4 linked regions of the Homo sapiens genome follow. The protein of the gene in region 2 purifies or fractionates together with the protein of the main gene of each other region. This does not show direct contact. Each region holds a gene or a part of one and is shown on either strand. Other genes may lie near its edges.

The links.
Region 1: the proteins of CPLX2 (region 2) and SRP54 purify together in Homo sapiens (affinity purification with mass spectrometry; one large-scale study listed by BioGRID and IntAct). This does not show direct contact.
Region 3: the proteins of CPLX2 (region 2) and PHF6 purify together in Homo sapiens (affinity purification with mass spectrometry; one large-scale study listed by BioGRID and IntAct). This does not show direct contact.
Region 4: the proteins of CPLX2 (region 2) and INF2 purify together in Homo sapiens (affinity purification with mass spectrometry; one large-scale study listed by BioGRID and IntAct). This does not show direct contact.

The regions. Positions count from the first base shown.
Region 1 is NC_000014.9:34,989,441-34,993,321, reverse strand, and holds part of SRP54 (signal recognition particle subunit SRP54), read right to left. Parts: intron 79-3,881; exon of another isoform or gene 1-78. UniProt on the Homo sapiens protein: Component of the signal recognition particle (SRP) complex, a ribonucleoprotein complex that mediates the cotranslational targeting of secretory and membrane proteins to the endoplasmic reticulum (ER).
Region 2 is NC_000005.10:175,870,226-175,874,377, reverse strand, and holds the start of CPLX2 (complexin-2), read right to left. Parts: upstream 2,801-4,152; 5' UTR 2,673-2,800; exon of another isoform or gene 2,179-2,672; intron 1,612-2,178; exon of another isoform or gene 1,358-1,611; intron 1-1,357. UniProt on the Homo sapiens protein: Negatively regulates the formation of synaptic vesicle clustering at active zone to the presynaptic membrane in postmitotic neurons.
Region 3 is NC_000023.11:134,390,261-134,394,141, reverse strand, and holds part of PHF6 (PHD finger protein 6), read right to left. Parts: intron 642-3,881; coding exon 508-641; intron 234-507; coding exon 190-233; intron 1-189.
Region 4 is NC_000014.9:104,713,567-104,717,447, reverse strand, and holds part of INF2 (inverted formin-2), read right to left. Parts: coding exon 3,842-3,881; intron 3,246-3,841; coding exon 2,592-3,245; intron 2,165-2,591; coding exon 2,109-2,164; 3' UTR 2,108-2,108; intron 1-2,107.

The DNA of each region.
Region 1 (3,881 bases), on a different chromosome or scaffold from region 2:
AATTAATATTCTTCATTTAAGAAATAAGATTCAGATGTTTCAGTTTATATCCTTCACCATGGTGGTACTGGGAGTGATAGAATCCTATTTATGACACCACAATTAACTTTTTTAGAGGTCATGTCATAAACAGATCATCTTTCATTTTAAAAAGCTATACTAAGCCAGGCATGGTGGTTTACGCCTATAATCCCAGCACTCTGGGAGGCCAAGGCAGGCAGATTGCTTGAGGTTGGGAGTTCAAGACCAGTCTAGCCAACATGGTGAAACCCCATCTCTACAAAATATACAAAACTTGGCCGGGTATGGTGGTGCACTCCGGTAGTCCCAGCTACTCAGGAGTGTGAGGCAGGAGAATCACTTGAACCCAGGAGGTGGAGGTTGCAATGAGCCGAGATCACATCACTGTGATGAGATGGAGTGAGACTCCATCTCCAAATAAATAAATAAATAAATAAATAAATAAGCCATACTAGTTAACTTTTTGGGGGGGCAAACTTTAGGAAGTGTCTTTAATTTTTTTAATTAATTTATTTTAGATTCAGAGGGTACATGTGTATGTTTGTTACACTGGTATACTGTGTAATGGTGGGGACTGGACTTATACACACATGACCCAAATATTGAACCTTGAACCCAAGAGGTACTTTTTCAATCCTCAGTCTTCTCCCAAACTCTTCCATTTTGGAATGGTCTGTGTCTACTACTTTCGTCTTTATGTCCATGGGTACCTATGTTTAGCTCTCACTTATAAGTGAGAACATGAGATACTTGATTTTCTGTTTCTGAATTAGTTCTCTTAGGATAATGGCCTCCTGCTCCATCCATGTTGCTGCAAAGGACATGATTTCATTCTTTTTATGGCTGCCTAGTAAATTCTTAAATATAAATCTAACTTTCCATGTTAACTGGTTGTTTTAAATTTAAAAATTTTAAAAACTTCTGTGAGGTTTTCCAATATACTTTTCCTTCTGCAAGTAGTTACTGGCAGTGTGTATTTTAAAACATTTTTGCCTTAAATTTAAAAAATATATTTTATTATATAATACATGAATACATATAGTTTTAATATATAAAATAACAAAATCTGTCCGGGCCCAGTGGCTCACGCCTGTAATCCCAGCACTTTGGGAGGCCAAGGCGGGTGGATCACCTGAAGTCAGGAGTTCAAGGCCAGCCTGGTCAACATGGCGAAACCCCATCTCTACTAAAAACACAAAAATTAGCCAGGCTTGGTGGCAGATGCCTGTAATCCCAGCTACTCTGGAGACTGAGGCAGGAGAATTGCTTGAACCAGGAGGCGGAGGTTGCAGTGAGCCGAGATGGTGCCACTGCACTCCAGCCTGGATGACAAGAGCAAAACTCCGTCTTAAAACACAAAACACAAAAACAAAATAAAATCCTGCATTTCAGTAGAGGAGTAAGAACATCTAATAATACCTTTAACTTACAGTGTTTCCTCTACAATGTCCAAGGATGATGTGTTCCTGAAAACTCCGTGTTAGAATTTTGCTTAAAATCTCAATGACTTCCATTGCACACAGATGTAAAGTCCTCAGAATGGACTGTAAGGCCCCCTCCACCCCCCACCCCCAACACACACGCATGACTGATTTTAATCATACTGACCTCCTTGCTATTGCTGCTACACATTTCCACCTCAGTGTCTCGGTACTAGCCAGCATGCTCTTCCTCTGCTTGACAACATAACTCCCTCCCTCATTTCCTTCAGATTTGTCCAGATGCCATTTCTCAATGAGGTCTTCCCTAATCACTTATTTAAAACTGCAACCCTCTTCCCTTTATTTTTTCCTATTGTTCTATTATCAACTGACATATGGCTTATTTATATTATTTGTCACCTATAATCTCACTATTGAAATGTAAGCTGTGGCCAGGTGTGGTGGCTCATGCCTGTAATCCCAGCACTTTGGGAGGCCGAGGTGAGTGGATTGCCTGAGGTCAGGAGTTCGAGACCAGCCTGGCCAACATGGTGAAACCCCATCTCTACTGAAAATACAAAAATTAGCCAGGCGCGGTGGCAGATGCCTGTAATCCCAGGTACTCAGAAGGCTGAGGCATGAGAATCGCTTGAACCCAGGAGGTGGAGGTTACAGTGAGCCCAGATCGTGCCACTGCACTCCAGCCTGGGTGAAAGAGCAAAACTCCATCTCAACAACAACAACAACAACAAAAAAAAAAAAAAAAAAAAGAAAAGAAATTTAACCTGCACAAGGGCAGGGATTTTTGCCTCTTTTGCTTTCTCCTGTGAGCTCACTGCTTTATCTATCCTCAGCCTTATACAGTAAATCCTTAATAAAAATGAACATTATGAATGAATGAAATGATGTATTTAAGGCCTTAGGGAAAAAGCGAGACCAGAGAACTAAAGTCATGAAAGGCACTGCAAATATCTTTAAAAGCCACTAAAATAAATCAATGAAGATAATATGATGAATCAAAAGAAAAACAATAACTTGGGTAATTTGTACTGTACATTAAATATATTTATTTGTCATTACTTATAATTCTTCTTCAGAATTTCCCTGCCATGCATTTCCAACAAGATACTTAAAAATTAACCTCACCTTGTTCTAATATGTACACTAAAGTGAAAAATACCTTTTGTATGTTAATAGCTAAGCCTAAATCTCAGGTTGGAGTAATCTACAATTCAAGTACACTCTCAAGATTCTCTTGCCTAACTAAAACGATTTATAGAAATAAATCTGTATATGCTAGAATTTCACAAAGGAAGAATCTCTACTTAGATGGGGCTTTTAGAAAGGTAAGAGATTACCACACAGTACTTTCTTACAGTTGAACATCTATTATCTCATTTCACTCTTACAACAATTTTATGATATAAGCAGGATAGGGAATAGAACAGCCGTTCCCTGCCAAAAAAAAGCAAAATGACTTCCCATAGTCCTTTGGCTAGAGTATGAATGAAGCTTTAAATTATAGGGTTGAATACACCTGCTGGAAACTGCAAGGACAAATTTTGCTGCTATGCTATAATAGAAGAAATCACATTTTAATCATATTTAAAGATGTATATTCCTCTTTGTGGAGGAGTAATTGCAACGTTCAGAAAGAAATGATAACTATCACTGCAATCAGACCAGTACATACAAGGACTGATCCTGGCTCGAGTCACAGGGTCTTCTAACTGGGGTCTGACTAGGATTTGGATAGTAAGCAATAGAAACAGGCTGAAGTTTTGGGTGCCCTAAGTAAGGCAATCACAGGGCCAAGTATCACACTTACTTGCTGCAGTGTGAAGTACTGGAAAGAGCATAGATTTTGGAGTCTGACAGACTTAGATTCAAATCCTAGCTCTGTTACATACTGGCTGTGTTACTTTGGGCAAGTTACTTAATCTCTCTGAGCCTCACTTTCCTCACTTGCAAAATGAAGATACCATTACCAAGGTAGTTACCCTGAAGGGCTGTTGTGAGGATTAAATGAGACAATACATATAAAGCTGTCTTCAAAAACCTAGCATATTAACTATTAACTTCCTTTCTTTTTTTAATGATACCAACTATCTCTCTCTGTATTATATGGAGTGTAAGTAAGCTGGAAATTTTCTGAACAATCTTACAGAAGTGTCTGTCCCATCATTCAGGAACCACTCCTGGAATCTTTAAAATTTAGTGGCAATTACAACTGCCAGATTATTATTCAACAGAAGCTGCAGTGTCCAAAAACCCACCTTTCTCTACATAAACAATTATAAATATTCCTGCCAGATTTGCCTGATCTGAGATTATATAAACAGAGTCTAATGATTAGCTATGTCAAATCCTATTACAACATAATCCCTACAAAAAAGTTCTTTTTTTTTTTGAGACAGAGTTTTGCTCTTGTTGCCCAGG
Region 2 (4,152 bases):
AGATCATGCAAGGAATTGGTGAGTTAAGATTGGGATGGGGGTGCCGAGGGAGAATTCCAGGGAGAAGTCCAGACGCTGTAGCTTTGCAATGCTGCCTACATCCCCACCCTCCACTCTGTGACTGCTGCTAATGCCTTGGTTCAGGACCTAGAGATTCTGGATTTATCCATAACCTCTAACTGTCTCTCCCTCAGCTCTCATCCAGCCTCCACGTGGCCATCCAATTAATCTTCCTAAAGGGCAGATTTTCTCATGCATACACACCCTGCAATGGCTCCCCATGGCCTTGTTAAACTGATACGAGTCCTTGTGCTGACCTTCAAGGCCTGCACAGTCTAGCACCCGTCTTCCTTGCTGCTCGTGTGCCACCTCTTGCACAGGGCTCTGCTTAGCACGTATTATTTCCCAACAGATAATCTTTCTGAGAATGCCTGGGCATTTGTGCATGCTATTCCCACAGCCTTGGAACCTCTTACCCTCATCTCTGCCAGTTCAAATCCTGGCTCCATCACTTACTAAGTAACCTTGAGCAAATGACTCAATGTTTTCTCATCTATGAAATGGAGACAACAACACCTATTCCCAAGGCTTGTAGTGAGCATTGAATGAGGTGATGCAAATAAAGTGCTCAGCCCAGTGTTGGCACAAAGTAGGTACATATTATCTAACATCATCGCAGTCATCATTATCATCATCAGCAGCATTGATTTCTGAAGATCTCTCTCAAACAGCACTCCCTCCATGCAATTTCACGGATCTCCTTGGCAAGATGTGAGGGCATCTTCCCCTTTGGAGACCTGTGGCACTTTCTGGGGGCAGTATTGCCTGCCTCCAGTACATGCTCTCTTTGTCTGTTTGTCTTTCTTTGTCTTGCCCTTCCTGGTTACTCTGAGCTCCTCTCAGGACAGGACCAGTATCTTGTTTCATTTCTCCTGTCCCCAGAATTGGCTACATGTCCTGGTACATGGTAGATCCTGAGGACGTGTGTGCCGGGTTGAATTTAACGTGTCAACGAGTGCATGAGGGTGTGTGCGTTGAAAGTATGACCCCGTGTGTGCAACTCTGGACTTAGACATCGTGTGAGTGCGTGCGTGTGTGCAGGGTGTGTGTGTGTGTATGTTTTGCCATATGCCTGCGGGAGTGCTGAGGTCCAGCAGGTTGCCGGCAGTTGAGGATTTGGGCCAGGCCGCCAGGAGGCGCTCCTTAGCGATTCTGCGGGAAGCCTTGGTCTATCCCTGCGCGGGAAGGGGGGTGAGGGTGGGGGTGGGTGGGAGTGGGGGTGGGTGGGGGATGCTGCGCTGGGGGAGGGGAGGCCGGGGGCGGCGAGGGATGCCGTCGTAGCACCAGGTTTCCGTACCTTCAGTGCGCCGGGGACCCAGGGCGCGCCTTCAGCTTCCTTCCCCTCTCCGACTCCCTCCGAGCCCGTCCCAGCCCAAGCACCGACTCAGGCTCGACCATCTGAGCCCCTAGAGGTTTTCGGGACTGGGCCCCGCCATCTGACAGGCTGACTCGGGTAACCTGCAGTGGTTGTCCTTATGGCCGTTTTTCTGTTTTTATGATTCAAGTCTGGGCTATATTCACCGCAACTCAATTCAACACTCATTTGCTTCTGGCAGGGGACTACGCCAAAGGCAGTGGCAGAGACAGGGGATGTCACTCCACCCCCTCCCCCCGCCCCGTCCCCACCCCGTGGCCCGGGATGGGAGACGCATGGGGGAGGGGAGGGGCAGCGGAGGATGGGAGGAGGTAGGGAGCCGACTCCGGCTGAAAAGCGGAAGTGGCCGGGGGTTCCCGTTTCCCGGCCAGAAGAGAGGACAGGAACCCCGGCGCCCCTCTCCCGGACCCCCGCGGAGACCCACACCCCCAGCAGCTCTGTCCTGGATCTCCCGGTGGGCCACGGAGAGCGCCCCTTCCCCCAACACACATAGCTCCAACCCCAAGACCCGGCCCGGTTTCAAACTTTGCTGGGGAAGGGGGCAGATTGAGGCCGACGAGAACGAGAGCACAGAAGGGGTCGTTCCCGAAGACTCCAGGCGGCGGGCGTGCGCTGTCCAAGCGGCGGCTCCTCCCGGAAAGGGACAAATAGTCCCCTTGGTCCCCCATCCCCTGTCAATGTCTACGTTCTCCTCCCCTCCACCTGCGGTCTGTCCGCCCCCCTGCCGCCGCCCTCTGACTCACTCCGGGAGTGCGCACTGTACCCCTGGGGGCGACTCCCTCCTCCGGGGCGAAGCGTGCTCCGGCGGGCTTCGGGTTAAGCACAGCCAGAAGTAGCTTAGATCGACGTCCCCCACTCCCGCGAGCTCAAAGTTGTTCTCTGGGTTCAGACTTGAGTCTCCGCCGCAGCCGGGGCGGTCCTGGCTCCGGGACCCCGGCCGTTCGGGCTCTGCCCGGAGTCTCCGGCTAGGGCCCACGCTTCCTCTTAGTTCGCAGCTAGCTGCCTGCTCGCGGCCCCTCGCAAGGAGCTGTCCTTTCAGCACCACGGAGAGCGCACCCGGGAGTGTCCCCTTTACCGCCTCTCAGTCCCCATCCGGTGCCCAGGCAGCCTTGGGGAGCTGTCCCCCCGAAAGCCGTGCTCCCCAGCTTCCCGAGCTGCCCCAAGGCCTCGAGGCGAGAGCCGGGACCCTGTTGCCCACAGCCCAGCTCCGCCCTCCCGGCCCTCGGCCAGCACCGACCTGGCGGTCCCTGCAACCGTCTGAGCCACTGCAGGGCTCCGGCCCGACTCCACGAGGTGGTTCCTTCTGCTATTCCAGCTCCCGCCGCCGCGTGCAATTCCGCCAGGCGAGCTGGAGCCGCGGCTTCTGCCGCGGGCGGCTGCCGAAGGCGCCCTCCAATCACGCCCCTCAGCCGGGCCCTGACGTTCTACCGCTCCCCTTCCAGATGGGAAATTCAAATCTCTCTCTCTCTCTCTCTCTCTCTCTCTCTCTCTCTCTCTCTCTCTCTCTCTGTCTCTCTCTCTCTCTCTCTCTCCTCTCTCTCTTTCTCTCCCTCCCTCCCCCCTCGTCCCCTCCTTCTCTCCCTCTCTCCCTCCCTCCCGTCTCCTTCTCCCTCCATTCCTCCCCCTCTTTTCTCGCTCCCCTCCCCTCTCTCCTCCACCTTACACTGTTCTCCTCCCCCTCGCAGACGCCCCTGCCGCCTCCCTGCAACCAGACATCCTGGCCACAGCTCCAGGCCCACAAGCTTGCTGCTCCTGAGGAGTGGTGGGGGCAAGGGGTGGAGGAAGGGTTCTTTAAAGCAAAGCTCAAAGTTCACCTCCTTGGGAAAGCCCTCCTTGGTTTCTCCAGGCAGAGTGGTTGCACTTCTTGCGGCTCCTGCCACTCCCAGACAAGCCCTTGCCTCAGCGACCCCCGTTCCACCTGTTGGTTTGCCTCTTGCCTGTGAGCAGCTCCAGGACTGGACCTTGGCCAGGTCATCTTTGCAGCCCCCCAGCACAGTGTCCAGCCACAGGAGCACTCAGGAAACACTGATGGAGCGTGTGGGCAAGACCCTCGCAGTGGGTCAGGAACCTCCACTGCGCACCCAGAAAGAGAAGACTGATGCAAAACTGCAGTGGACCTTAGGCAAGCCACTCGCCAATCCCTTTGAGATCTGATATCCTGTGAAGAATAAGGACTCCTCTGGCAAAATTTATTCTAGAAGGCCATTTCTTTTCCTCCTATGCCCAAGAAAGTAAAAGGACTTCCAAGAGGCAGGACAACATCTGCTCCCACCCCCAGCCTTTCCTCTTCCCCTTGCACTCATTTTTGTTTTGTTTTGTTTTGTTTTATTACTCTCACCTAATGAGCCTTTTTATTCTGCCTGCCATCTTTCGGCTCCCAATTACTCCAGCCCGATGTGTAGGAAAATGGCTTCGGAGAGGAGGGGCCTTGCACAAGGCCTGTGAAAGATCTGCAGGAGTTTCACATCCATCAAGGTATGTCAGAGTGGAGATGGCTTCTCCTTCTAAGGGGATGGCTTCCTTCCAAGGAAGGGGCAACAAGAGCTGCAGAAATGTGATTTTGTTCCAGTGAGGGAGAACTTATCCCTTCACACACGATCACAGCAGAGGCCTTAAAGCAGGAGACCCCCCCACCAGTCAGAGGCCATTGGTGAACCCATCCTCGTCACCTGGAGAATCACCTTCTGAAGTCTATGTCTGTTCTCCCCTTACAGGCT
Region 3 (3,881 bases), on a different chromosome or scaffold from region 2:
AAAAAAAAGAAGTTCAGATCTTTTTCACTATGCACATTAGTTTATCCTAACACTTTTCTCAATTCTTCTAAATGTACTGAATGTTGAGATATGTCTTATGGTTAAAATTAATATAGTATAATTCACTAATCTGTACTCAAATTTCTTCTTGAAACTGAAAAGTGGCTGAAACGTGGCTAAATGATGTACCTTCGGAGTTATGTGCAGTTTTCTTGTGTTTTCGGCAATAGACCCTATAAAAAATGAAGAAATCAAAAATTAGTAAGCAAACTAAATTAAACTCACTTTTCAAATTAAGAAAACGAGCAGTACACTTCACCCAATTCACTAGCTGGATTCAAAATATATTATTAAACTTCCTGTACTATTTCTCTAAGTATTAAATTTCTTATCAAAAACACCCTTTATGATGATGATGAAATGCTTTGAAATGGGAAAAATTTTTACAAAAGCCCAAAGAAAGTATTATTGTTAAAAAAAAAACTTAAAGAGAAGTTAAATAATTACATGTAAATTCCTTGTGAAGGTTTCTCTCGTATTTGAGCTTTATCATGCAATGCACAGTGGTAGTGGTATGTCCTGTGACATGTTTTCACATCACAACCAATTGTTGCTCCAGGACAATGGCACAAAGAACACATCTACAGCAAAACGACAAAATAATATTATTAGTATGTGACTTTCTAAGGCTGTATATCAGATTAGAGGCATATCAATTTCTGTCAAGGAAAACAAATTGGTTATTGAAAAGTTTTGTAATTAATGCTACTTTTCTTGTTTTCTCTCCTTAGAATAACCGGAATAAAATTCTTCTGGGGTATTTTTTCCCATGTTAAACACTGACAAAATTAACAGAATGTTATTAATGTCTATTGTTTCATTATGGTCAAGAGAAAATTTGAAATACTGTAATTCAGGAATGTGAGCTGTATATAACATTATAAAAGAGACTTTTTATGTAATCCAGATCTTCCTAGGTACAAGTAACTGGAGAAAATGTCTCATACCAGAAAAAAAAAGTTTTCCTTAAAATTTCCACTTAATTGCTAAGTGCGGTGGCTCATGCCTGTAATCCCAGCACTTTGGGAGGCAGAGGCAGGCAGATCACAAGGTCAGGAGTTTGAGACCAGCCTGGCCAATATGGTGAAACCCCATCTCTACTAAAAATACAAAAAAATTAGCTGGGGTGTGGTGGCGCATGCCTCTAATCCCAGCTACTTGGGAGGCTGAAGCATAACTGCTTGAACCCAGGAGGTGGGGGCTGCAGTGAGCCAAGATCGTGCCACTGCACTCCAGCCTGGGCAACAGAGCGAGACTCCGTCTAAAAAAAAAAAAAAAAATCCACTTAATTAATGAGACTCTGTGGGAAAAATATCTCACATAACTTACTATTTGAGAACCTAGTAAAATCCATTTAAAGCGAGGGAAGGAGACAAGGTGAAAGAATTAGGTAGTTTTTTTAATACCTTGAGCTCTGAGACTATTTTGTGATGTCAAGTTGATTATATTATGAAAATATGCACAGTATTTCAATTTAATCTATGTCACTTACCTCTTGCACTATGAATTCAGGCAAACAGATAAAAGAACAGATTCTTTCAATGTATTTTATTATACCTTACCTTTTGAATTTAATGGATAATTCATATTGATTAACTAGCTCATGCTCTACATTTAGGAAAAAAGTTATCTTTAAAAAGTTACATAACAATGACTTTCAGTGGTTTTGATTAACATATCATAATGTACTGTACCAAGTGAACTTTTATAATGAGGCCATTTAACTGTACATGACATGCCAAAATAGATTCACAACAAGCTAAATCTAAAAAACTGTTCATTTGCTTCTTGGTTGCTGGACACCTTGTTCTAAAGTGTTCTCATCCCTCTTTTTATTAATTTGAACATAAAGAACACTTAGCATTCCTAACTTTTGGATTACTCGGCCTCTAAGCAATATTGGTGTACCAAGAGGCTAATATAAATTCCAATAAAATTTCTTACATTTCTCTAAGCAAGTCAAACACTAAAACTCTCATTCAGGCTATCATTTAAAAAATATTCATATGTCAGAAACAGAAACAGTCTCACTACAGCTGTTTCCCAGAAAACATGAGGGCCAGTGCCCATTATTGATACAAGAAATACCCCTTTCTTCCTTAAATAAATACAGAAACTTCAAAGTATTACTGTAAAAAGAAATACTATGCCAAATTATCAAGAAGGCAAAGCTTTTGGATGGCTTATAAATTCTTAAGGAGGTACAGCATTTGAACTGTAGCTTAATTACAAAGTTCTATTATATTAAAGAAATTCTGGAAAACAAAAAAGCACAAAGAAAAATTTTAAATCACTCATACTCACCAAGCAGAGATGCCTCACAGTGTTACAATGCTTAGTGAAACGTAATTCTACACATACTATTTTGCAATCTATTTTTTTAACGCATCAAACATTATCCCACTTCACTAAGAACTTTAGGGAAAGTAGTTTATCTTGAAACTTACATCCAAAACAGGTTTAGATGGGTACATTTTGAAAAAAATATATTAAATTCAATTAGCGAGCAAAACTGAAAAGAGAGGTGCCATTTAAAATACTATATTGAGCTCAACATTGACAAGATACAGTTAAGATGGGCACTGTTGTATACAGCTGGAAATTGGTACATACTCTCTAGAATGCAATTTGCCTTATTCAACAAGGTTTTTAAAAAATTTGTATTCTCTAAGCCAGTAATTTTACTCTATAAACCTAGTCTAAAAAATAATCACACTCAAGCAATTAATGCACAAGCACATTCATTGTAGAATTATTTAGAACAGTCTAAAATGTAAAACCACCTATCAACAATTGAAAAATATTTAGGTCCGGGTACAGCAGCTCACGCCTGTAATCCCAGCACTTTGGGAGGCTGAGACGGGCGCATCACCTGAGGTCAGGAGTTCAAGACCAGCCTGACCAACATGGAGAAACACCATCTCAACTAAAAATACAAAACTAGCCAGGTGTGGTGGCACATGCCTGTAATCCCAGCTACTCGGGAGGCTGAGGCAGGAGAATCACTTGAACCTGGGAGGTAAAGGTTGCGGTGAGCTGAGATTGTACCATTGCACTCCAGCCTGGGCAAAAAGAGTGAAACTCCATCACAAAAAAAAAAAAAAGAAAAAAAAAAGAAAAAAAGAAAAAGAAAAATGTTTAAATAAATTATAGTATACACATATGAGAGAATGTTCTACAGCCACTCTTTTCAAAGAAATTGGAATGGCTCAGGAAGATCTATGTGTAATGTTAAGTTAAAAAAAATGAGGCAGGATACAAAACTATGTGAATTATGAACCCAACTATGTTTATAACATAGATTCTTTAAAACAGGTGCAAGTAAAAACAGCAAAATGCTAAGTGGCTATCTCTGGGTGGCTGGTTTTCTTCATAATGCCCTGTATTTTGATTTTTCTACAATGGGCAAAAGTACTTTTATATGCAAAAATATTATTTAAAAAACAAATTAGGAAAACTCTAGTAAATGCTTTCAATACCCGTCTCTCAGTCTGGTGAGAATAAGATGGGAACCAAAAACCCAAAATATACCAAAATAGTTTTTGGCTGGTTATAAATTTAAATCTGCCCAAAGTAACTGGTTTTAAGCTGCTATGGTGAAATACATGCATTTTGCAAATAACCAGTTAACTACAGCAACTCAGGACAGATAATTTTTTTAAAGCTTACTTTATTTTTATAGTCAGTTTCACTCAAGAAAGACAAGAAAGAGGAAGACATACCAATAAAAAATATTTTCGGAGTGGAAACTTCTTTACAAGGTTAGGAGTTGGAATTTTGCTAAATTAGAATTCCCAGGACCTATTTTATGCAGCATTCAC
Region 4 (3,881 bases), on a different chromosome or scaffold from region 2:
TGGCACATCTGCACTGGGACCGAGTATTAGAAGCATGTGGACGTGAAGCGCCCCACAGCGGACCCTGCCCGGGGGGGACTGGGAGGACGGCAGCGCACCCTGCCCGGGGGGGCGGACTAGGAGGACGGCAGCGCGCCCTGCCCGGGGGGGGGACTGGGAGGACGGCAGCGCACCCTGCCCGGTGGGGGCGGACTGGGAGGACGGCAGCGCACCCTGCCCGGGGGGGACTGAGGAAGACGGCTGTGCTCTCAGGTGTCTGTGGGCGAGTTTAGGGCTCCAGTGCCATGATGTTTATAAGAAACTCTCAGATGCCTCAGTTGGAGGGGGGCAATGTAGCAAAATGGTCACAATTTTGGTATTTTTGGCAAATGGTTGTAATTTCGGGGAGAAGGTGTTGTTCATTCTGATCTATGCAGTTTCCTGTGGTGTTGAAGATTTTCTAAATAAAAAGGTGGGGGCTGGGCACGGTGGCTCACGCCTGTAATCCCAGCACTTTGGGAGGCCGAGGCGGGTGGATCACCTGAGGTCAGGAGTTCGAGACCAGCCTGACCAACATGGTGAAACCCTGTCTCTGCTAAAAATACAAAAAATTAGCCGCGCGTGGTGGCGTGTGCCTGTGGTCCCAGCTACTCGGGAGGCTGAGGCAGGAGAATCACTTGAACCTGGAAGGTGGAGGTTGCTGTGAGCTCAGATCGCACCACTGCACTCCAGCCTGGGCAACAGAGTGAGACTCCGTCTTGAAAAAAAATAAAAAATAAAAAGTTGGGGAGAGAAGAGGACTTCTTCCTCTTGCCCTCAGCCACGTGCGTGGCAGGAGCTGGGGCGGGTGGAGGCTAAGCACGTGTAGCAGGTTCAGGAGGGAACCAGGTGGAGCGTGGAGCTGGCACTGGACACGTCCATCTTTCACTGGACCATTGTCAGATGTGGCCGCCCGCCCCAGACCTGCATGCTCCACTGTTCCTCACACTCAGGGCCAGCAAGTCCAAGTTCCAGCCTCTAAGGGAGATGCCAGCACCTTTCTAAAAAGTACACGTGGGTGCTTCACACCAGAGAGCCACACTCGGAAGATGACCCTGGAAGCAAAAGCTGGAACCCAGGGTGAAGGCCGTGCCCCAACAGCGAGGACAAGCTGTCCGGAGAAGCTTCTCCGGGGTCACGACTGCTCTTGCCTCTGATGGGCACCAGCAGACCTCAGGTGTGCACCTTGAGCCTAAGCCCCAGGCCCAGCGGTCAGCATATTTGTGATGCACCGACACCGGGCTGGCTCTGAGCAAGGCTGGAGGTGCTGGAAGACGCCACGACCTGGGCTCACAGAGCTCATGATCGGCCGGGCTGGACCTTCTGGTTCTCTGCTCTAGCCCCTCCTCCACCCAGTGCAGGCTGGTCCTGTCTAGCTGGATGCATTGGCCTCTCCAGCCCTGTGGACGGACCTGGCTGATTGACCTTTGGCTGGTCGCCCCCCAGAAGACTCGGTGTGCGGGGGGTAATCTGCTTCTCCATAGACCCACCCATGGCCTCGGGGTGGGAGGACACTGTCCAACAGGAGGGGGGTTGCAGTGTACTTGTCCCTGGCAGCATCTGCCCTTGCGACTGTCCCGGTCTCCTCACAGACTTCCTGGGGACATGCCCCAGAAGGCCCCACGCCATTGACACACTTAGAGTGAAGATAGCCCTCCACCAACAGACAGAGCAGGAAAGCCACAGGGTTACTGGAACTGCAGTTAGCGCCAGGACACCAGACAGGAGCAACCTCAGCCTGTCCTGCCAGCCAGGAGGTCCCGCCCACGCCCCAGGGCCCGGATCCTGCTTGCTAAGGGAGTCCGGCTGGCCCTGCCACCTGCCCTCTCGAGGCCCGCATGCCCGGGGCCAGCACTGAGGTTGCGTCCTGCCTGCAGGAGGCACCAGTTGAGCAGGTAACCTGCGGAGAGGGAGGGGATGGGGCGGGAAGCCCACCACCAGGGCTGCGGGAGCGGCAAGGCCACACTGACGCACCACGCGGGCTGGAGAGAAGCCAGGTTAGTGTCCCGGAGGGGTGTGGGCAGCAAGCTCCAGCCCCACTGCCCTGCAGCTGCTGTTAGCCCCCACGGAGCGCCGGCTGCGTACATACCTTACTGGATCACACACAGTTTCTTTGTTTTATTATCATCAGAATCAGGGGGAACCTCTGCTTCCAAATAAAAGAAACGCACTCAACGGCTTATCACACAGAAGCAACCCTGACTCGGAGTGGGTGGGGCTGGGGGGCCCGGGACAGCCATGCCAACACCCTCTGAGGGCTGCCCGGTTCTCTGGCCACTAAGCCACATGGCAGCCACTTGCCTGGGACCTGGTGCCCGGTGTCCGCCCCCTACTCCCTAACGGAGGTGGCGTGAAGGTCGGAATTAGTAGGTTGGAGGAATAGTTGCACGGGCCGCGGCAGCCCACATAGCCGCCCTGCGGTGGACGCACTGCCGCCTCCTCTCCCGTGCCGCACCCAAGTCACCTCTCCTGGGTGCCGCTGGAACTTGCAGTGCCCAATGGGGAAGGGGAGGGACCGGCTGGGTGCCAGCGCCCTGGCGTGGGACGGTGCCCGGGGCCCCTCCCTGAGTTACCTTCCTGGCTCCTGGAGGGACGCTTCTTCCTTCGCTTCCCGGTCCCCTTTGAGGCCCGGCCCCGGGCCCTGGGGAGTGTGCCCGACCCCGAGGAGTCGGTCACCGCATCCTCGGAGAAGGACTTGTCCAGGGATGTGTCCAGTGCGGACTCTGGGGCCGTGTCCTCCTCGTCCTCGTCCTCATCCCCACCTGGGCCTGCTGCAGGGGGTCTGGCACCACGGCTGTGGACAGCGTCCTCCAGCCCCTCACTTGTGCTGTCGGCCTCGGCCTGGAGGACGCCCAGCAAGGACGTGGGATCCTTGGCATCTTGCCTTGAACTTCCGGCTGCAGGGGGCTGGTTGCTGGAGAACTTGAGGGGCTTCAGGGCCTGAGCATCTCCCAGAGTCACCGGCCAGGCCCCCTCCAAGGGCTGGGGGCACTGGGGATCCTCAGTGGTTAGGACATCGCTGGCATCCACATACCAGGAAGAACGCCTCTCCAGGGGCCGTGGACCACCCTCCTCCAACTGCTCCAGGGTGGGCTGAGGGCCGGGGGTCACGGCGTCTACAAGGTCCCAGCCCCGGGACTCGCTGGCTGTTGTAGCATCAAGGCCGGGCTCAGAGGCGGGACAGCGCGTGCTGCCCACGGGATCTCCTGCAGGGTTACTGGTGGCCACTGGATGGAGGGACACACCAGTGAAGGGCAGGCACCCTGCCCCCGAGCCAGCCCAGGTGCAGCCTCCTCCATTCCGCTGTCTACCTGAACGCCCTGCAAAACCTCCTCCCCAGAAAGCCTCCTCTGATGTCTCAGAGCAGGACCCGGCCTCAGCGTCCTTGGTCTGTCTACACTGTGGCAGGGTGGGGGACACTGGGCCATGCCATTCCCAGCACCCTGAGGCAGCCACCCCAGGAATGGGGTCCTCCCACCAGGGCCTTGCCGCCTGCCTTTCCTGCCACCTCTAGCACCCTCTGAGCCCAAGGGCATCGGTCAGTGGGCCTGGCCTCATCTCTCTGGAGCCCAGCGGGCTGGACTGCTGCTTCAGCACTGAGGGCAGGGCCTGCGGTTACAGTGGAGGAGCTGGAGTGAGTGGAGGGAGGGATGAGGGCTGAGCGGCCACCACCTGTCCCCTCGGCTGTCCCCAGTCTTAGGGGCCTCCAGGGTGGCCCAGGGAGAGGAGAGGGCTTTCCAGTGAAGTCAGGAGGACTTCCTGGAGGCACAGGGTAGGGACAGTGGCAAGGGGACCATGAGGAGGCAGTGGGAGAGGGTCTTACCAGGCTCTGTGGCTCTTGGGGGATCCATGGAGGCTGCCTT